Regions from separate parts of the Homo sapiens genome. Here all the other regions are linked to region 3. Evidence: fine-mapped expression QTL. A gene starts in region 3. Each other region holds a variant in brackets. All regions are shown on one strand. Distances are from middle to middle. Region 1 holds the start of LOC105374339 (a long non-coding RNA gene). Region 2 overlaps PCGF3 (polycomb group ring finger 3). Region 3 holds the start of CPLX1 (complexin 1).

Region 1 (5,095 bases), 40 kb before region 3:
CCTGCAGGGATCCGGGTCCAGGACTCAGGAGGAGGGACAGTCCCACGGGGGTGCTGGGGGGCAGGAATTCCTGGGTGGGCCGAGGTAAGGGCAGCACAGGGTGACCTGGGGCCCTGGGCCCGGTGGAGCTGAGGAGAGGGACAGGCCTGTGGTCGGGGGTCCTAGGTGGGAGGGAGAGCAGAGGGCAGATGCTTTGCGGGTGGAAGAACCACCCTGGGGGGCGGGAGACCCTGAAGGCGCAGGTTTGTGTTTAGATGGAGGTTGCGCTGGCTGGACGGCCTAGGGAAAATGGGTCTGACTGGATGGAGCTGAGTGAGAATGGTGGGAGGCCCTGCAGCCGCCGTGGAGAGAACATGCGCGGGGGAAAGCCCCGGTCCTCCGGCTGGCGAAATGGACCTCTGGAAGGAATGGCCACACGGTGTGAAATCACTGGTGTTTATTGGCTGTGATTCCATCCGGAGAGAACACACGCAGGGGCCCCGACATGCAGGAGGAGGCGCAGGCGCAGGACAGACGGACAGAGGACACCACGGTCTAAGCTAAGCTCGCGGCCCGGGGCGCCATGCGCTGGGAACGGGGTGCGCAGGTTCTACGAGAGGACGCCCTGTCTGCTCAGAGCTGGCTTTGTAAGGTGTGAAAACAGGAGTTTTTAAAAGACACGACCCGGGAGAAGTCAGTGAGAGGGCACAGGGCGAGCAGGACGGACAGCGACGTCCCCGCGGGCCGCGTCGCTGGGGCGCAGAGGGGCGCGGTGGTCTCTGCCCGGAGGGGCGTCGGTCGTTAGTATTGCAGTCTAACGTTATGGCTTCTCTAAAGCTATGTAAGGTCATGAAGGTCAATGCCAAGCCACGCCCTGGCCCGAAACACGTGGAGACTTGATGCATTTTTGATGTGGACGAAAGGGCCCGGGGGCGAGGCGGCGCCTGTCAAGATAAAACTCATTAAATGCAAAGACCTCATTTACCTGAGATTCAACAAATTGTGATGCAAATTAAACATGAATGGAGGAGAAACAGGGGCTCGGATGCCGCCCCGCAGGGCCACCAGGTGGATTAGGCCACACACGCGCCAGCTGCGCGCAGGGAACCCCGCAGGCCCCACCCGAGGAGCTGCCCACGGAGGAGGTGCTGGGCAGGGGCGCAGGGTCTCCAGCGTCCGGTGCCTCGGGCCTCTGCGGCTCCTGTGGAGGGTGCAGTGTTCAATGGCCGAGGGCAGGGGTCCTCCCCAGGGAGAAGCAGCAGCCGCGTGGGCGGAGAGGCTAGGAGGCCGGGCGGGGGGCGAGGACTTGGGAAGAGCGGGGTGACGGGGGTGGGGGCTGGGCGTCCCCCAAACCTATTGCTTTGTTTCCTTTAGTTTAGAAGTGAACACGGCCGTGGCGTTCGTAAGAAGCAAAACCTTCCAGAGAGGAGAGGAAAGGACGCGGACAGAGACGGATGGACAGGGGCGCGAGGGGGCCAGGCCGGGGGGCGGAGAGCGGCCGCGTGCGGACGCAAATACTCACGGCGGAGCGATCCGAACCCCGGAGTCCGCGTGCAGGAGGGGGACCCAGGCCCCGCCGCCCTCGCCCCGCCCGCAGCCCCCCGTCTGCTATGGCTGTGCTCCTGAGTGCGGGCCCGACAGGCGCCCACCGCCGCGAACGCGCGCACAGGGGTGGTCGCGGGGCTGCCCTTCGGCGGCCCTGGCCTCGGGCGCTGCTGGGTGGGCGGTAAACAGCAAGAGAAAGGGGCGTCCCAGGCGATGGGGCTCCAGCCACCCGCGGGCAGAGGAGCACGGGGCGGACTGGGGGGGTCCTGGGGGCGCGCGCCCCTTGCCGGGTGAGGGAGGCGGCGGGCGCGGGCAGGGCGGGCCTGGGGCTATGGCTTATATCGGCGTGGGGGCTGCGCTCTGCTCGTCCCTCAGGGGCCTCCGCGGAGGATCTGTAGGGGGAGGGGCGGGGGCTCCGCGGGGCCGCTGTCCCGCGCGCGGCTACTTCTTGAGCATGTCCTGCAGCGGCCCGGGCAGGTACTTGATGACGGTGTCCAGGATGCTCTCGTCCTCCTCCTCCACCTCGTCCCCGCAGCCCGGCGGGATGGCCTTCTTGGGCCGCGTCAAGCTCCCCTCGGAGTTGGCCTCCATGGCGGCCTGGGCCTCGGCCTCGCGCTCCTCCTTCTTCTTGATGCCGTACTGCGGGGGAGGCGGGGGTCAGGGCGGGGGTCCCGGCGGCTCCCGGGCGGGCCGCAGCCTCCCTGCGCCAGGGACTGGCCCAGGAACCCCCGAAGGCGTGGGTGCGGCCCCCTACCCCACCAGGCACACAAGGACCCCAGAAGGAGAAGAGACCCCACCCCGGGGGGTCCCTGGAGGAATGGGAAGCCCCCACGGAGAATGGGGGCCAGGAGCTGACATGGGGGGGAGCAGGGAGGGGGAGGCTCCCATCTTCCTTGAGAGGAGAGAGGGCTGTGGCCCCACCTCTGGCTCCAAACCCAGCCCAGCCCCTGGCATCCTGCCTTCCAGGAAGCCTCCGG[C/T]CCGGGGCAGGGAGGGGTGGGCAGGATGCTGCGTGGCAGAGGTGGGGAGAAACAGTCAACCCGCAGCTGACCCTCCTGCCCAGTGCCTGGTCCACGACCTGCATTCACACTCCCGGGCCTGGCCAAGGCTGCCTGGATGCGGCCGCGGCCCCAGCAGGGCCACTCCCTGGCAGGCCGCTGCAGCTCCGTGGGCAGCCGGCAGAGGGTCCTGGGCTGCGGTCACTTCCAGGCACTGGGTGTCCTGGAATCCCGCCTAGTCGTGCCCTCAGCCAGTATGCCTGGGCCTCACCGACCCCCTGCCCACCCGCGTTTCTCATCTCCCGTGAGTGCGTCTGCCCTCCGTAGTAGCTGAATATTGTCCCCCTCAAATTCATATTGCCTGGAGCTTCAAAGGTGATCTCATTCGGAAACAGGTCTTTGTTGATCTCATAATGGTAAGGATGGGGACGAGGCCATCCTGGATTTGAGGGGCCTCAAGTCCAGTGAGAGTGTCCTTGTAAGAGACAGAAAGGACAGACACCCGGATGGGGGCGGGCATACGAAAGCGGAGGAGGTCGCGAGTGGTCAAGAAACACCAGGGATTCGGGGCCGCCAGACGCAGGAAGGGGCAGGGAAGGGCCCTCCCCCAGAGCCTCCAGAGGGAGTGTGGGATTTTGTTCTTCTGCCCTCCAGGCCTCTAAGTTTTTGTCAGGCCCCGGGGTTTTGGTTTCTAGATCAATACGCCTCCCCACGCCACACTCCTCCAGCCCTCCCGTGAGCCACCAGCCCAGGAAGCCTGTGGTCATGGTCAGGCCACGGAACTACGGAACAGCCTCCTGCTGCCCAGGAAGGTGGGAACCAGTGGGGTTGGGCTGGCCTGGAAGGATTGGGGGCCTGGTGTTGTACGGAGCTGGACTTCCATCCCCTGAACAGGACCCCCGGGCCAGGTCCAAGGTCCTGGATCTGAGATTACAGGTGCTCTGGAGTAGTGAAGGCGTCAGCAGCTGCGTCCAGGAGAAAACTTAGGAGGGGAGTGGGCACCAGCACTCTACAGGACGGAGGAGCACACCGCGGGATCACCAGCCACAGGGAGGGGCCTTTCTGCCCAGGAGGAGCCCCTCCCCTGCCATCTCCTGCTCCTGTCTCAGCAGCCCCTCCCCATAGAAGCAGTTGGTTCTGCTCCTGGTGCTGGGCACCCCCTGGATCTCCAAGGAGGCCCCTCCTTCCTCCCAAATGGAGGGGGGGCTGCCTGTGTGCTCCCCAACCCCACCGAGGGCAGTCTCGGCACCTCTCCCCTCCCCTAGGGCTGCAGGTGGCTCTGGGTGTGGGGGGCCAGGGCCACCTTCAGTGAGATGGAAAGGAGGGCGCCACGTTCCCAGCCGCCTGTGGCCAGACCACCACCTGGCCACTGAGGAGAGAGGGGCCGTGGGCTCGCCCTAGTCCTCAGCAGCCCCTGCGCACTCTTGACAGAGCCGGGACTCCAGGGGTCTCCTCAGTGAAACGAAGAGCACAGGGTAGGAACGTTCTCCGCACAACAGGGGCGACACCCAGAGGGCCCTGCAGGCCCAGAACAAAGCCCTGACCCTGTGGGGCAGCAAGAGCAGATTGGTTCTCGTCCTAGCCATCCACAGCGGGAAGGGCAGCAGCTCCAGGCACGGAAGTGGAGGGAGCATGTGCTCTTCGTCCTGTGGGGCCAGGGGTGTGCTGGGGAGAGCGATGCCACTGGAAGCTAGGTCCGGCCAGAGAGCCTCCCTCCAGCCAGGGGTGTGGGGGTCTGTGCATGTGGCGGCAACATGTGTATCCAGCCCAGGAGGCTGTGCTGCCCACAGCAAAAGCACTCAGGAACATGTGTGTGCTCAGAGGAGCATGCCTGTAACGGCGGAACATGAGTTGTGTGAGCAAAGGAACCTCCCAGGTCAGGGGAGTGACCCTTGGGGCTTGTGGGACCCTGTCTGCAAACGGTGTGGGATCCTTCCTTCTGGGCCCAGGAAGGAGACCCCAGGCCCTGCCACCAGGTTGTGGGACACTCGGAGCTTGGCCTGAAGTGCCAGTTGCTGCAGTGAGGCTCCAGGTCATTCTGAGGCTGAGGTCACGCCGGACTTGGCCTGAGGGCCAGGGTCACTCTGCCGGGAAAACAGGCTCCGGGGCTGGGCTGCACACCAGAGCCTGGCTTCCACGTGGTCTGGCTGAGACCCAGTTCTGAGGCGTCTGCTCCAGAGACAAACGCCCAGGCACACCCAGCCCCAGGCCCACCGTGATGCTGGGCAGCAGCTCTCCAGGAAGTAACACCTGAGGATGGGAGTGGCTGCTGGGGGCGCCCAGGAGGCCCTGACACGTCTGAGGTGAGACCCTGAACCCTGAAAACACGGTATTCGTGAGAAAAAAGGGCAGTGGGTGCTAATCAATGCTGAGAACCAACAATAGGAATGATAGGACCAAACAGCCAGCATTCAGCAACCAGGTGGACACCTCCTAGCCGCTGTGGGAGCTGCGGGGGGTAGGGGGATGCAATGTATTGAGGGAGCCTAGTGGGCCCTCAGAAGGCCCGTGCAGGAAGGCCCAGGTGTGGGCTGCCCAACATGGGTGGCTGGAAGCTTATGCAGGACAAGGGCGGG
Region 2 (5,000 bases), 64 kb before region 3:
TCTCCCGAGTTCTTCTCCTTCCGGACTCCGGGTCTTTCTCCCCGCGCGGCCCCTCTCCCGAGTTGTTCTCCTTCCGGACTCCGGGTCTTTCTCCCCGCGCGGCCCCTCTCCCGAGTTGTTCTCCTTCCGGACTCCGGGTCTTTCTCCCCGCGCGGCCCCTCTCCCGAGTTCTTCTCCTTCCGGACTCCGGGTCTTTCTCCCCACGGCCTCTCTCCCGAGTTCTCTCTCCAGACTCCCGGATCTTCTTCCCGCTCACATTGTCCCTCTCCTGTGATGCTTGCAGGCGGCCTCGCTCCATCCCACCCCGGAGCAAGGATGTCTCTTGCTTTTTGCACAGAATCCACTTATCTCCCCAGTGGCTCTTGCGGGGCCTTTAATGGGCTGTGCTCAGTGACTGCACCGTGTCGGAGTGGGTATTTCTTGTATTTTGGATTCTTTTGCTTCCTGAATCTGAGGACTGCCCTTCACTGTTGTGGGAGATCCTTAGTCACTGTTTCTTAACACTTCCTTTCCTTTCTGTTCTTCCCTTTGGGGCTCCCGTCTTCTCCCCTTTCTCTTAGCCTTCCTTTTATTGTTTGAATTGGTGTGTTTATCTCTACTCCTGATGGGTAACTTCCTCAAGTGAATTTTTTTTTAGGACATTAATCTGTCCTCGGCTGAGAAGAATCTGTGGTTCAGCCATCCACTGAGATGTTAGTTTCCGTGAGTGTTTTTATTTTTAGAAATTGTATCTGATTACCTTCAATACTTGCCCGTCTGTACCCCTGGTGTCCTCCCTTTTGTATCTTTTGTAATTTTAGACATACATGTTTCAGTTAACCCCCTGTCCATTCTTCCACTGCATTTTTAGGCCCTAACTGTGCCGTTTGTTGCGGCTCCACCTGTAGAAGCGTTTGCCGTGAGCGTCGCCCTTCCTTGTCAGGCACATCTTGGGGGCCAAGCCGGCCGGGCCCTTGGGTGAAGCCTCGTCCTGGGCAGATTCCTTTTCGCACCGGGCAGGGAGCCCGTGGCTGCTGGGACTCCACAGTCCCCTTAACAGTCACTTTTTATCCTGCGGCCAAACTGCTGGTCACCTGGAAGGCAGCTGTGACCTTCCGCCTGTGGCCCTGCTCAAGGCTTCTCCCTACTGTCTTCCTGCAGTCGCTGCTGTCTCCCCGAGTGCATTCGCAGACACGGGGCCGCCCACTCCCCTTTGCGCCATGTTTGTCCGGACAGGCTTAGCTGGAGACCAAGAACCCAGTGCCTGCGATGGATAAGTAACTGTGGGATTAACTCTCAACTATTATGTTAATAACACAGAATTAACAGGGTGAGGTTATAGTTCACAAAATGGCAAGCAGACGATAAACAGGTTTTCAGATAAGGTATGTAAGATTCTTTTTCTGCAGTGTTGAAGTCAAAGCAGATGTCTGATCTCAAAAAGGTCAGCAGTCCTAGATTGAGGAATTAGTGAAATATGTCTAAGGAAGCCTCCAGAACCGTCCGGGGGAACCCTCCTGCTGCGCTCTCACCAGCGTCCTTTCCCGCAGGTGAGCATCTGCCTGGAGTGTAACAGCAGCAAACTGCGCGGGCTGAAGCGGAAGTGGATCCGCTGCTCAGCCCAGGCGACCGTCTTGCATCTGAAGAAGTTCATCGCCAAAAAACTCAACCTTTCATCCTTTAACGAGGTAACAGTTGATCCCTAAGTAGAAACCATAACAAGTCCTCTCTTATTTCTAAAGGTAACTCCAAGATTCTTTGCTTAGTTTTGTTTTGTTTTTAACAATTTTGGAGATTTTAACCAGAAAAAAATCCGTTTTGCCTGCTTCACCGGGGAGCGGGATAGGAGACAGCCCTAAGGGTTGTAGGATGCCCAGAGACAGGGAACGTGGAATGCTACTGTGAGTGGAAGAGAGAACTAGGGCGGGGATGATGAGACTGTTTTAAAATAGGATAAAGGTTTTCCTCAAAACGAGAAATTCTGTGCTTTAATTTCACAAGGGGAGACATGGGCGGATGCAGAGAGGGAGGACCCTTCCAGGCTGTGGTGTGTAAGGAGACGAAGGAGTGCTGGCATGAGGCGGCCTTGGCAGCGGGCGCACCATGAACATGCCAGTGTGGGTCCCTGTGAGCCCCCAAGGCAGTGACACCATGGGGATGCAGGCGCCAGCAGGGTCCAGCTTTGCATGGAGACAGAAGGCGCTGGCGGCTGTGGGCAGGAGCATGGGTCTGGTGTCGTTTTTGAAAATCGCTCAGGCTGTGCAGAAATGGACGCAGGAGAGGCCAGCGCCAGGAGTTGCAGGAGAGGCGGACTGTGGTGGGGGCGGTCAGGGTGGAGAAGTGGACAGACTTGAGATGCTGTCTGTAGCAGCAGTGGACTCAGTGGTGGCCCCAGAAGATAAGCCACATCCTAACCCCCAGAGCCTGCAAATGGGATCTTGTTTGGAAAAGGATCTTTGTAGATATAATTAAATAAAGGATTTTGGGATGAAATAATTCTGGAATATCTGGGTGGAGCCTAAATCCCATGACACAAGTGAGGCGGAGGAAGACTCGAGACAGGAGGCCCTGGTGAGGACAGAGCAGAGGACGGACTGGAGGCTGGAGGGAGGCAGCCTCGAGGCAAGCCAGGGAGCCCCTGGGCCACCAGCAGCTGGAAGCCAGGGCAGGCTCCCCGGCTGTGGTCCGAAAGCATCCCCCAGATTCATGTTGGAAATTCCATCCCCAGCAGGGCAGTGCTGGGAGTTAGGGCCT[G/C]GGGGAGGCGCTCAGGCCGAGGGCCCTGCCCCATGCACGGATTGATGCTGCTGTGAAAGGACTGGCCAGCATGTGTTCTCACTTCTGATCTTCCCCAACATGAGGATGCAGCAGAAGGCCTTCACAGGTGGCAACGTGGTGACCTTGAATGTCCCAGCTCCCAGAACTGTGCCGAAATCAATTTGTTCTTCATAAATCACCCAGTGTGTGGTGTTCTGTGGCAGCAGCACGGAATGGACTGTGCTTCTCCCCTGGAGCCTGCAGAGGGAGTGTGGCTGTTATGGACTCTGGAACTGAGTACATTTCTATTGTTTGAAGACACCACCTCGTGATAATTTCCACGGCAGCCGCAGGAGACTAATTCAGAGAAAGCCACAATAAGTTGCTGATGTATTTGGGTGGTGATGCAGAGAAAAGGAAGGGGTCAGGAATGACTGCAGGCCTGGGGCTGCTCGGTTTGGGGTGGGGGGTGGTGTCTCGGGACAGGCTGGCGTAGCTGCTGTGGTGGCACAGAGCAGAGGCTGTCAGGTCATGGGGGGCCAATGCCAGCCTTGAGTGTCCCACAGGTTGGCCGGGGATACGGACAGCACACCGGGGTTGGGGAGACTCACTGAGCACGGGCTGCCTGGAGATCATGGAGAAACCAAGTCAGGACACGGGGGGAAGGGAGAGAAGGAAATGGGGCAACGCTTTTTGCTAAGTTTCTATCGTTTTGTTTGCTTTTCTGTGTAGCGAAACAGAAAAGATGGATGGTAGCTGGGGACAGAGCAGGCCGAGGAAGTCCTTGGATTTTCATGTGGAGGTGTAGCGGGAAGCTGCCGGACAGTGGGGCTGCAGGGGGTGGGGAAGAGGTTGGCCATTTCCCAGCGCAGGGCTGGTTCCTCCAGGGAAGAGTGTGAGGTTTGCGCTGCTGCTGCGTTAACCGTGCCTCTGAGCCCCCAACCCAGCCACTCAGGCAGGTGGGGCTGCTTCAATTCATGCCTTCCCCAGGGAGGAATCTGAAGAACTGTCTACATGATCAGGGAAACGCAAGGAAAACTGCGTGGCACCACGCGTACCCCATAGAAGGGCCAGAATCCCAAGCACTGACAACACATTCGGGAAACGCCGGGAGCGCAGGTTCATTCCTGTGGGAAGTGGAACCCGCAGGCCCTGTGGAGAACAGCTTGGCAGCTGCTGACAACACGAAACACACTCTCGGCAAACCACCCAGCAGCCACACCTCGTCATTTACCCACTGGAAATCTCCTGCCCACACAAAAACCTGCACCCGGATGTTGATAGCATCTTTCTTCATAATTACCAAAACCTGGAAGCGACCAAGATGCCCTTCAGTAGATAAGTGGAAAAATAAACCGTGGTGCATCCATACTGGACTATTATCCAGTACTGAAAAGAAATGAGCAGTCGGGCCAAGAGCAGGCACATGGGAGAAACATCAAGTCCCTGTTACTAAGTAGAGAAGCCCCTCTGAAAAGGCTGTAGGCCGTGCGACTCCAGCTCTGCAGCATGGCGCACTGGAAAAGGCAGAACCATCCGGAGGCTGCAGGGGCTTGAGGAGGGTAGTAGGAGTGGGCGGGCACAGGGCTCCTGGGCGGCGATGCTGCTGTTTGTCCACCTGTGGCTGTGCCACCAGGGCGACCTGACATCCGCTCTGGACTCGGTGGAGGTGATGTCAGTGCAGGTTCCTGGGTGGTGACTAATGTGCCCCCATGCAGGGTGTTGGTGGCAGGGGGGTTCCAAGGGGGACGGGAACTCCCTGTACCTTCCTCTCAATTTTGCTGTAAACCTTAAATTGTTCTTTAAAAAGTCTAATTTTTTTAAAAGACTGGGGAGCCTAGTGCATTTTTGCACTATGGTGAGAGGGAGGGACAGCCTGGACCGGAGGTAGGGCCTGTGGGGAGAGGGTGCCCCTGGAGGCTGCAGCCGTGGGAGGGGGCTGGTGTGGACTGGGCCTGGGTGGGATGGGGAGGGAAACACTTCGGCCCTATGGGCCTCTCAGGCACCTGTGCCACCTGGGGAACCAGGGTGCCCGATTCCGGAGCTGTCAGGGCTGCTCATGGGGCTGCAAACCACCTCTTCCCGTTGCTCAGTACGGCAGGTGTGGTAGACAGGGTGTGATGGGGCCTGTCAAGAGAAAAAGGGTTCAGGGCAGCTGCAGGCCAGATAGGGGCGGGATGGGAGCCCACCACTGCAAGGAGCTTGTGCCTGCGCCTGCACCCCCTGCAGAAACGTCATCCCCCTAACTGGCACGGGCCTGCCCTGTA
Region 3 (10,693 bases):
CTGGACCTGCCCGCTAGACCTCCCCACACGTGGCAGAGCCGAGCATGGGTGAGTCCTGCCTTGGGCTCTGTCGCTGGGGCAGTCAGAGGCTCTCCTGAGTGTCCGGCTGCCTCCCACTCTGCACCCCAGCCTCTCCGCACATGCATCCTCCAAGCCGTGTCCCACCTGAAGCCCCGGCCCGCCTGCCCCACACATTCCCGAGGACCTGAGCGTGTTTAAACAGGGCGTGTGTCACATCAAGGCGGAGGATGGGAGAGCGGGTGGCTGCTCGCTTCTGCCACATTTAGCCCCATGAGGGTCTGCAGTGACCACGGCACCCACACGTGCCACGTTCCTCCACGCTGTCCACAGAGCTCCCAGGCCGTGTTTGCAACTTTCTGGCCTGAGGAAACCAGTTTCTTTAAATTACTCCCTTGAGGACCCTGGATCCGGACCCACGTGTTGTGGGGGGAGGCCCGGCCCCAGTTCAAGGCCACTTTTGCTGCAGAGGAGCCTCCCGCTCCCCCACGAGCGATCACCCCGGCAGCCACCATGCTCCCTTCCCTTGGTGGCCCCAACAGGGGCCCCTCCTTGAGACCCAGCGTTGGGTCAGATGAGCAGGCCCTGGGCCACTCACTCCTCAGCAAGACTCACACCTGCGGCCCAGCCTGCCGCGGACAGCCCCCGAATGGTCTTGATTTAACCAGGCCTGTCCCCCTGCCCAGAGCCCTGGGCAGGTCCTCACCTCTTCCTCCTCTCTGCTGCACCCTCTGACGGGCGTGCACGTGTGCATGTGCCATGCTGCCTGCGCTCCTGGCCCTGACTCCTCTTAGCAGTTCATTTCTAATGCGTCTCTCTCCCCACTGTCTCTCCCTCTGTCTCTGTCTCTCCCTCTGTCTCTGTCTCTCCCTCTCACCACTGTCTCTCCCTCTGTTTCTGATTCTCCGTCTCTCCCCATCTCTGTCTCTCCCTCTGTCTCTGTCTCCATCTCTATCTCTCTAACTCTCTCTGTCTCTCTCTCTCCTTCTGCCTCCACCTCTCCCTCTGCCTCTCTCTGCCCTCTTCCTTTGTCTGTCTGTCTCTCTGTATCCCTCTGTCTCTCCCTCTGCTCCCATCTCTCCCTGTCTCTGTTTCTCCCTGTCTCTGTCTCCCTCTGTCTCTGTGTCTCCCTCTATCTCTGTCTCCGTCTCTCCCTCTTTCTCTCTCTCCCCTCTGCCTCTGTCTCTGACGTGCCGTCTCTGTTTTCACCTGTCTGTCCCTGTGCGTGCTGAATAACACATTCTTGTCTTTTTCTCTGTCTGTTTCTGGGCTGTCATTTTCTTTCTCCAGCTCCCCCTCCCCGACCCTGTTTCTGGGTTCGCCTTTCTTTGAACGGCTTCCTGGGTGCCTCCTGCTCCCTCTCCTGCCAGCTTCTTTGTGTCCGGGGCTTGGTCTGTTTCTCAATAGTTCTCTTGGGGTCTCTGCCAAGCTCTGTCGTGCTGTCTGGAGGTTCCCCCATTTCCCATCTCTGTCTTGCTCTGTCTCACTCACACGCATCCTGAGACAGCAACAATGAGGCTCGCCGGGTGAGGGACAGAGGCGCAGAGGCAGAAAACAAGGTCTCGACTGGAAGCCCCCCACCAGCTCCCGCCCTCAGCAGCTCTGGCTCCGAGCCTCAACGTGCTCTGCAAAGCCAATGTGGGGTGCTCTGGGAAGCACTCAGCGTGGAGCCCCCCCAGGGTCTGCTGGCTGCCCCCGCTCAGCTCCACCACGCTGAGCGACGCCTGCCCGGTTGCTGCTGCTGGAGAAACTTTGGGCTGCCATGAAACAAAAAGGGAATTCAGGCTGGTAATTACCCAGCTAATTTCAGTCATGTAGACAGCCAAATAAGATATTTCAGTTTCTTACAAGCCCACCTCAGGGCCTGAATTAGCCAACTAATTAATTATCCGTAACAGCCTGGGACTCCCTGGGTGGAACGTGCGTCCCTCCCAGCGCAGATGCAGGCTTGTCCCTGAATCACAGCCCGGTGACGCAGCCATTATAATTAGACTCAACCTGACTCTTACCCTTGACCACGAAATCTCAGGGATGTGGCCCCAGGACAGGCTCAATATCTTTTCATTTAATTTGTGTTGAGTGGAAGCACAGCCACCCTCCGGGAGACAGCCAGGCAGGCAGCTCCTGCCCTGGGGGAAGCGGCGCCTGCCCTCTGTACACCCTTGTCCCTGGCCCCTCGAACCCGGCCAGCTCCCCCACTGCAGAAATGCTCCCAGGAGGCCTGACTCACTCCAAGGTGTGAATGGCATCAGGTGAGGGTGCTCCCCCGTGGAGGCCACCCAAGCAAGACGTCTCTAGTGGTAGAATCGGGCACCGGCCACAGGTTCCCCTCACAGGAGTTCTGGGCACTGGTGCTGGGGGAACACAGGATGGACGGCTCTGGGCAAAACTGAGACTCGCCACGACAGCCCCGAGGCCTGAGTTGACCCATCAGCTCTGCCGGGACACGTCTGTACCAGCATGGCCCAGGCCCTGCCCACCTCCTGGTCTAGGAACCCAGCCACTGCTCTTGACATGGTCTCTGGCCACAATGACAGCCTTGGGTCAAGTGGGGACGAGGTTCCTTTCAAATAGCAGACAGCAGGTTGGAAGGGGGCCTGGCCCCACCCCAGTACACACAAAAAAGGCTGCACGTCCCGCCTGGGAGGCAGTCGAGACACACAAGCTGTTTCGGGCCTTTTCCTTCGCTCCCGTAACCAGCAAGCCCTGGTCCCTGAGGATGGCGCTGCCTCACCCAAGTGAAACCCACAGGGTCCTCGCCAGATGCACAGGCCAGCTCTGTCCCCACGCCTGTCCCTGAGGCTGCCACCTGCATCCTGCTCTCCCACCGCTTGGCTCTCCTCATCTGGAAGGAAGCCCCCTTGGGGGCTGCCCAGCCTGGCCAGTTAGAATTGGCCCTGTAAAGCCTACGCCAGAGTGTGCACCCTCCCCCAGGACGTGCATCAGCATGGTCCATGGGCTCTGCCCCGACCACAGCAGTGGGGCAGAGTGAGCTTACAGGGCAGCCCCTGTCCCGCCAGGAACACCAGTTCTGGCTCGGGGCCTCGAAAAGGGCCGGGCTGGGGGCGCTGCTGGGCACGGTCCTTGCTCCTCTGCCCCAGGCTCCTGTGCAGGGCTGCGTGGGTGGCCGTGTGGCTGCAGGGGCGCTGCTGCGGTGGGCCAGATGAGGAGCAGCTGCTGTGGTGGTCTCTCCATGTCCCCTCAGCCCCTCCCCACCCCACCTCCCGCTTCCTACCTCCTAGAGCCTGCTTCATCACAAACTCCATGGCGATTGCTCTGCTTCCACAGTGGCTCCTCCAGGGGTCAGAACTCACACGCAAGTATGGCCGGGAGCGAGTGTTCTTCCTGGGGGAGAGTGAAGTGGTCACAGGTCACCCTAAGCAGGCCCCTGCCTGGCCTTCCCCAGAGACCATCATTCCTTACCCGCAATACCTTGTGGGCTGGACCCTCCCCCACCTGGAGCGGCTGCCTGGGAAGTCCTTCGTGAGGGGCTTCTGTCCCCACACCCAAACCAGGACCCCAGAGGACCTGAAAATGGTCTCCCCAGCTCCTGGGGTGTCTGAAGCCTCTGCAGGGAGGGCTGCTGATGGCTTAGGGGGCATCGCTCAGAGGCGCCTGGCGCCAGGCTGCGGAAGCAGGGGCGGGGCCCAGGGGGCGTTTGAAGGTGACTGCTCCGCTCTGCAGCTCAGTGTCTGGAGCGGCGCCTCCGCGGTGGTCCCGAGCCCAGGGCCGTGGAGAAGGGTTGGGGGTGGGTCTTTGAGCGGGTACCCTTCAGGGCGGGCTCCTGTGGCTTCTGACCAGGGAGGCTTGGGTGACCCTATCCCTGACGGCACTGCAGTCAGTGTGCCCCCCACATGGCCCGCGTAGAAGAGATCGGGGTTGGGGAGAAACTTCAGGGGGCTCAGCCTTCAGGAAACACGTGGGGACGGGGACAGAGCACCCCCGCCCCGGGGGCGTGCATGGGGTGGGGTGGGGCGCTCTGGTCCCCTCTTGGGAAGCCGCTTTCTGAAATCACAGCAGCCGCAGTGAGCCCCCCGGTTTTGCGGGGTCTCTCCTATCGGGGAACCCCAGGTCCCTGGAGAGACACTGTTTGACGGTTCACCCCTCGCCCTCCGCAGAGGAAGGAGACTCGCGCGGGGACTGGGAGGGCGGCGGGCGGGGAGCGCCCCTCGGAGGCTTTGCCGCAGCGCCGATTCTCCTCCAAACTTCTCCCCTGGCTCCCGCGGCGCGGGGAAGGAGGGCACGGCCGGGCCCCGCAGACCCGCAGGGCTCCGGCCCCGCCGCACCCGCACCCCTCGGCTTTGCGGGCGGGCGAGCGGCCCTCAGGCGGGAGCGCGCCAGGAGAGGAAAGAAAGAGGGCGAGGGAGGAGAGGGGGAGCCTCGAGACAGGAAGAAGCGAGGAGGAGGCCGGGCGCGGGCCGGGACCGCGGGGGCCGCTTCAGCACCGCGGCAGTGGACAGCGCCCGCCCCGGACCCCGCGCGCGCGGAGCCCGGGAGAGAAACGGGGGCTGCGGGGAGAAGCCGGGGTCGGGGGGAGAAACGGGGGCCGGAGGGAGAGGCCGGAGCCGGGGGGAGAAGCCGGAGCCGGGGAGGAGAGACCCGGGGAGCGGAGGCCGGGGGGAGGAGCTGGGCGAAGCCGGGGCCGCGGGGAGAAGGGGGGCCGGGAAGGAGAAACCGGGGCCGGCGGGAGAAGCGGGGAGAAGCGGGGGCCGGGGAGGAGACGCCGGGGCCGGGAGGGGAGACCCGGGGAGCGGAGGCCGGGCGCGCGCTGCGCTCGGGGCGCGGTTACCTTCCCGGGGCGCGGGCGGTCAGCGGCGGGGCGCGCTCGGGCCGGCTGGGTCCATGTGGCGCCCGGTGAGCTGCGGCGGCGGCTGAAGGGCACCGCGAGGAGGGCGCGTCACTCGCAGGCGCTCCCCGCCCCCCGCCCGCGTCCGAGCGTGACGAGCACGGGGAGGGGAGCGCCGAGGGGCGGGGCCGCGGGCGCCGGGCGGGGGCGGGGGTGGACCCGGGGGCGGGGGCGGAGGCGGACCCGGGGGCGGGGGGCGGGGGGTGGACCCGGGGCGGGGGCGGGGGGTGGACCCGGGGGCGGGGGCGGGGGGCGGGGGCGGGGGGCGGACCCGGGGCGGGGGCGGGGGGTGGACCCGGGGCGGGGGCGGGGGTGGACCCGGGGGCGGGGGCGGGGGGCGGGGGCGGGGGCGGGGGGTGGACCCGGGGCGGGGGCGGGGGTGGACCCGGGGGCGGGGGCGGGGGTGGACCCGAGTGACGCGCCCCCGCCTCCCTCCAACCCGGCCCGGGCTCGACCTTCCCCCGGCGGGCGCCTGCGACCCCCGCCCGCCCCTGATCTGGGCGCCCCCGGCTCTGCCCCCCCGCCCCCAGCCCGACGGTGCGGGCCTGCTCCCTACAGGGTCCGCGCGGGGCCGGTGGGTGCAAAACCCTCGGGCGGAGAAGTCGCTGCCTCCCGAGCGGAGGGGCCAGGGGTTGGGAGTCGCTGCCGCCCCCATTCTCCGGTGACCGTGTCCCTGAGCGCCGCCCGCCGCCCCGACCCCTCTGCCCCGACCTCCCCGTATCGCAGGGCGGGAGAAGGGGGCCCCCAGACCCCTGAAAACCCACGCAAGCCCCTCGCAGCCAGAGACCCGCAGGCCGGCCCGGGCTCACTTTCGGTGTAACGGAGTCGCTGTTTCCTTTACCGGGACGAAGGCCAGAGACCCCACCGCTCCCTCCCCTGGCCCCCGGGATTTCCTCTGCAGCGGACGCGGCACTGCGGGAGAGCGGGGTCGCCGCAAGGTCGGCCCTGCGGTTCGCGCTGTGCAGTGTCGGGAGCCAGGCGGCGGGAGGGATGGGGCGCACCGCGACCCTAGAGCTGCCCTGTGCTCCTGGCGGGGTGGGGGTGGGGAGGGGGGAGGGGGGCCGCTGCCGGTGGCCGCCGCACTAACTTGTCACTGTCCCCTCCCTGCTGAGTCCTGGGGACTCCCCTGGCGCAGGGAAGATGCGGCCCCTCCCCCGCCCTCAGCCCCATCCCCTCCGGTGCCCCGTGTTTAGCCTGAGCTCAGGAGGACTCAGAGGCCTGGACTCCCAGCCTTGGCCCCAGCGCCTCTGCCCCCGTCCCCACTCTTCTGCTGACTTGGCAGGGGACCCTTCGCAGAGGAAGGGAGCGCTGGGGGAGAGGGAAGGGTGAAGGCACCAGGGCCAAGCCCATGGGGGCTCCCTGAGACAGCCATGAGGGTCCCGTGGGCCTGGGGGTTCACAGGCAACCTCCCAGAGGGGGACCCATGCCCTAGGATTGGGGTCTCTTCAGCCTCCCTGGCTGGAAGCCATGGGCACCCCCAGCACCGTCCCTTCCTCTCTCCCGGGATCTGAGCCAAGTGGGCTCAGAACGTTGGGCCCAGGGACAGGAGGCAGGACACATGCCTGGGGGCCCGGCCTGAGCCCCAGCCTGCTCTGCTCCATCTGCTCCTCTAGTCTCCTCAGGACCTGGGAGGGGACAGCAAGGGTGAGATGTTCGGGTCCAAGAAAGAGGTCACTTCTCGGCCCTGGTGCTTTCTCTCTCCATCCCTAACTGGGTGGATAACCCAACAGCTAACCCGGACAGTAACCCCAGAGAGGACCCCAGGGGTGACCCCCTGAGCCCAGAGCCAGGCTCATGACTGACCCTGCCACCTCCACAAGCTGCATGCAAGGGATATGCTGGTGCCTTTGGGACAGTCTGCACAGGAGTGCAGGGAGGTGCCCGTTCTTCCGAGCAGAAGCACTGGACTCCTAGGCTGACCCCTCCCCGTTCTACAACCCAGGCCAGCCTGAGCTCCAAGCACACCTGGAGCTGGGGCCTGGGGCACAGAGGACAGAGACCCTCTGCCAGCCCTCACGTTCTGCCCTGTCTTCCTCTGCCTCTCTCTCTGTCTCTTTCTCCGTCGCTGTATCTCTCTGTCACTGTGTCTTTCTGCCCGTCTCTCTGTCTCTATCTTTCTGTCTCTGTCTTTCTCTGTCACTGTATCTGTCTCTGTGTCTTTTTGTCTCTCTGTCTCTTTCTATCTCTGTCTCTGTCTTTCTGTCTTTTCTTTCTCTGTCGCTGTATCTCTCTGTCTCTGTGTCTGTCTCTGTCTCTCTGTGTCCGTCTCTCTCTGTCTCTGCCTGTCCCTGTTGTTACTTGTTACATCCAGCCACACATGCAGTGACTGCTTCTCAGCTCTCACACTTGTCTAGGCCCTAACCTGGGGGTGGGGGGGCCCAGCCACAACTTGGGGGAAATAGACAAGGTTGGTGACAGCCCCAGGTCAGAGTGACAAGTGGCCTAGGGAAGGGAAAGTGGGCATCTGCTGGAGGAGTTGAGGGTGGTGCCCACTCAGGGTGTGTGAGCTGGGCCAGGGGAAGGGAAAGTGGGCATCTGCTGGAGGGCTTCAGGGTGGTGCCCACTCAGGGTGTGTGAGCCAGGCCAGGGCTGCCCAGCTGGGATGGGAGTCACAGGCTGCTGGCCAGGAGCCACCCAGGCTCCGTTCCAGTGGCAGAAGGTGGTGACGCGGCAAAAGGCCTCTGCCAACCCCCACGGGCCACTTGGCCACACCAGGGCAGGTGCGGTTGGCCCTTCGAGTGCCCAGAGGAGGCCCTGAGCCCTGGAGAAGAAGCCCCGCAGACCTCCAGCCGGCTGGAAAGGGGCAGGAGCTGAGTGAGAAAGGGGCCAGCAGGTTGAAGGCCAGGTTGAAGATCCAGGCAGGGAAAACATTTTGCAGGCCGGGGAAGAGTTGGAGGCCACCCCGTCCAGGCGGATGTTGGGAGAAGGAGGAGGTGGGGTGTGGAGCAAGTCCGGGAGGAGCAGGATGGAGCTCCAACGAGGGCTCCCCCAGAGGTCAGCTTGGAGAAGTGTGAGTGCTTGGCTGGGCCGAGCCCTGGCTGTGGGGCCTGTGCCAGCCGGTTGGACATGGATGGTACCCCCGGCCCAGCCAGCCCTCTGCTCCTCAGATGCTCCATCCCCAGCCCCAGTGAGGCCAGGGACCCCAGGAGCACAAAGCAGGACTGTGTGAGGACCATGTGGCACTGGGTTTGAGACCCTGCGGGGTCACTCCAGACAGCAGGGAAAGGAGGCAGCTGCCCTGCTGCAACCTCCAGCTCTAGCCTCTCTGGAAGCCCCTGCCAAGGCCTCCACTGCCACCCTGCTCCCATCTTCTGGGTCCCATCTGCCCATAGCCCTCCTGGGTGCCAGGCATCCTCCTTGCCTTGGGCCAGGAAAGGGTCTGGGAAGCACTGTCAGGGTTTCCTGGGGTTGGCCTTCAGTCCTGGCGTGGGGTGTGGCCAGGGGGCCATGTCCCCCATGGGCCCAGCAGGAGGGCAGCGCTCTGCCACACCGCATGTGTGGATCCGGCCCACAGCACCCACCCAGAACCTTCAAACACAAACTTAATAGTTACATGTGCTGAGTGATTCAGTCTGAGTGCCGACACCATCCACGCTGTCATTTTCCTGCTGGATTTTGATATTCCAAAAGTAACAACACGTGAAAAGCGTGAGCAAAGCAAGATGTAGACCCTTGCCGTTTGCCAGAGCTGGGGCAGGACCTGGGCTGAGTGGAGGGTGTCCTCGCCTGGGAAGCGCCCTGAACCCGTTCCCCTCCTCCACTGGGTGAGAGAGGTCCAGCATCTAGCCGGGGGAAGCCAGCGCCTGGGAGGTCAGCCTAGTGGGCCCCTGGGAGCAGAGCAGAGGTACTGCCGCAGCTGAGCGAATGCTTGTGCCCCAGGCCCTGCCCTGGGGTCCTGGGATCCACGGCTGCCCGGTCACACGGTGCCCAGATCTCATGGTGCCCCAGGGCACACATGGGGCCCGCTCTGAGCTGATCTCTTGCGGCCCAGCATGGTCCCAACCATGCAGTCAGCAGCACCAGGTAGCCGGGTCAGCGGCACTCACCCCTGGCTGGAGGGAGCCTCTGAGCTGGGCAAGGCCAGGTCCCGGGCAGCCCACCCGCCAGGCCAGGGCCCTCCAGCTTCAGGGGGAGCCACCGGCTCCAGCCCTGCGCTGAGTGTGGGGTGTGGATCTGGCCTCCTTCAGCCGGGGACCCTGATCCACCAGGGACCCAGGGCAACAAAAGAGCCGCCCGTGGGGAGTGGGCTTGGGGTGGACAAACCCAGAGGCTGTGGAGGAAAGGGGCCTTGCTGTGGGCTGCAGCTGCTCGAGGGACTCCGCCCTCCCAGCCTCAACACCTCAGGGCAGGAAGGAGGGGCTTCAGGGGCCTTCCCGGAGGACAGGGTGAGAGACAGCTCGTCTGGGAGAGGCAGGGCTGGCCCAGGGGTGTGGCTGGCTGGGTGGTGAGCACAGTGGGTGGTGCTGGAATTTGGAGATGGGCAAGAGATCCTGGGAGCTGCCAGTCGTGGGGAGGAGAAGTTTCCCGGGAGGATCCTGGGCCAAACACCTGCACTCCTGGGACCCAGAGCCTCAGATGCTCCTTAGGGTCTTGAGTGCCGTGTGATGGAGCCGGAAGGGGTAGGCGGGGGGCAGAGGGCAGGGAGAGCTGGGTTGAAGCCAGGCTCAGAACGCCGAATGCCCCTTCCCTCCCTCCCTCTCCTCCAGTGACACCTGGAGTGAGGCCACATCACATGCATGTGGGTATTTTTGGGAGCATTTCATGCCCAGGAAGTGGGAGGAGGAGCTATTTTGGCTCCCCAGGAGCACGGGACCCCTCCGGCAGCCCTGGTGCTCACTTAGGGAAAGGGCGTGCACGGCTCAGCCGGGCTGTGGCCTTCTCTGTGTCCCCTAGGGCTTGACCTCCTGACTGTCGGACTTTGTGTCCATGGGTGTGGTGGGGGCACAGTGGCGGAAGTGAGTCCCTGGGGCTGTCCCTGGAGGGCAGAGCAGGGGCATCTTAGGGTGGGGTGGGCCTGGGAAGGTGCGGGAGGGCAGCACCGTCTCACAGGGCAGTGGGCGCCAAGGCAGTGCTGCAGGACAGGGCAGTCACCCCAGCAGTGTAGACAGCATAGCGGCGCCCAGCAGAGGGAGGGTGTCCAGTTCCAGGGAAGGTGCCTGGGCAGCTGGAGGCCAGCAGACAGGGGTGTTCACAGCACAGAAGTTGTGCGTTGCAAACCAAGGCTTCCTGGGTCTCAGCTCCCCCTGCTCAGGGGCTCCTGCTGGGCCAGGGACACACGTGTGGAGTGGGCAGCCTGGCCCTGTGTGGCCTCTCTCTGAGCTGCCTCCAGGAAGCTTCAGGAAGCTTCAGAGGCTCCCACGAGGTGATACGGGAGAAGCTGCTGCCTAGGGTATGTGTATCCCACAGCCCCTGGCCCCGTCCACCCACCCTGCTCCTTTGCTTAGGCACTGGCTCAGCCCTCAGTAGCTCAGCCACCCACTAGCACACAAGTGTTTCCAGACACTGCTGGGAGCTGGGCACTTGTCCTGAGGAGGGCAGGTGGGGCTGTGTCCTCACAGGGTCGTGTGCTGGGAGGAGACAGTGGACAGGAGCTCAGGAGATGGCAACAAGAACCCTGCAGGAGCCTGAGACAGAGTAGGGAGAACACGGCCATTGGGGGGTCAAGCCAGCCCTGAATAACTTGATGTCACCCAGGCCCATCACAGGTGAGGGGATCACGGCCGGTGGGGGGTCAAGCCAGCCCTGAATGACCGGATGTCACCCAGGCCCATCACAGGTGAGGTGAGCACAACTGTTGAGGGGTCAAGCCAGCCCTGAATGACTGGATGC

What was found. PIP is the estimated chance that this variant, and not a neighbour inherited with it, causes the effect.
Region 1: its variant is the best candidate, but not a certain one, in a credible set for the expression of CPLX1 in whole blood (TOPMed, PIP 0.50).
Region 2: its variant is the best candidate, but not a certain one, in a credible set for the expression of CPLX1 in whole blood (TOPMed, PIP 0.86).

The regions. Positions count from the first base shown.
Region 1 is chr4:784,536-789,630 of GRCh38, forward strand. CPLX1 (complexin 1) reads right to left here. Exons shown (of 4, transcript NM_006651.4): 4 at 422-2,163. The coding sequence ends at 1,966. It overlaps LOC105374339 (a long non-coding RNA gene), which reads left to right and starts at 3,239. Exons shown (of 4, transcript XR_925032.4): 1 at 3,239-3,331; 2 at 3,428-4,822. RefSeq lists enhancers at 576-1,447, 3,420-3,921, 3,922-4,421, 4,928-5,095. The variant C/T (reference allele first, on the strand shown) is at 2,502.
Region 2 is chr4:759,750-764,749 of GRCh38, forward strand. PCGF3 (polycomb group ring finger 3) reads left to right here. Exons shown (of 11, transcript NM_006315.7): 9 at 1,530-1,667. It overlaps LOC124900163 (chloride intracellular channel protein 6-like), which reads right to left. Exons shown (of 2, transcript XM_047416474.1): 2 at 1-2,991. The coding sequence starts at 298. It overlaps PCGF3-AS1 (PCGF3 antisense RNA 1), which reads right to left. Exons shown (of 3, transcript NR_171661.1): 3 at 694-4,860. Among named protein-coding and RNA genes, the nearest start is that of PCGF3-AS1, 20 kb to the right of the region's middle. The variant G/C (reference allele first, on the strand shown) is at 2,734.
Region 3 is chr4:821,239-831,931 of GRCh38, forward strand. CPLX1 (complexin 1) reads right to left here and starts at 4,891. Exons shown (of 4, transcript NM_006651.4): 1 at 4,808-4,891; 2 at 3,254-3,363. The coding sequence starts at 3,284. RefSeq lists a silencer at 4,861-4,910 and enhancers at 8,719-9,236, 9,237-9,752.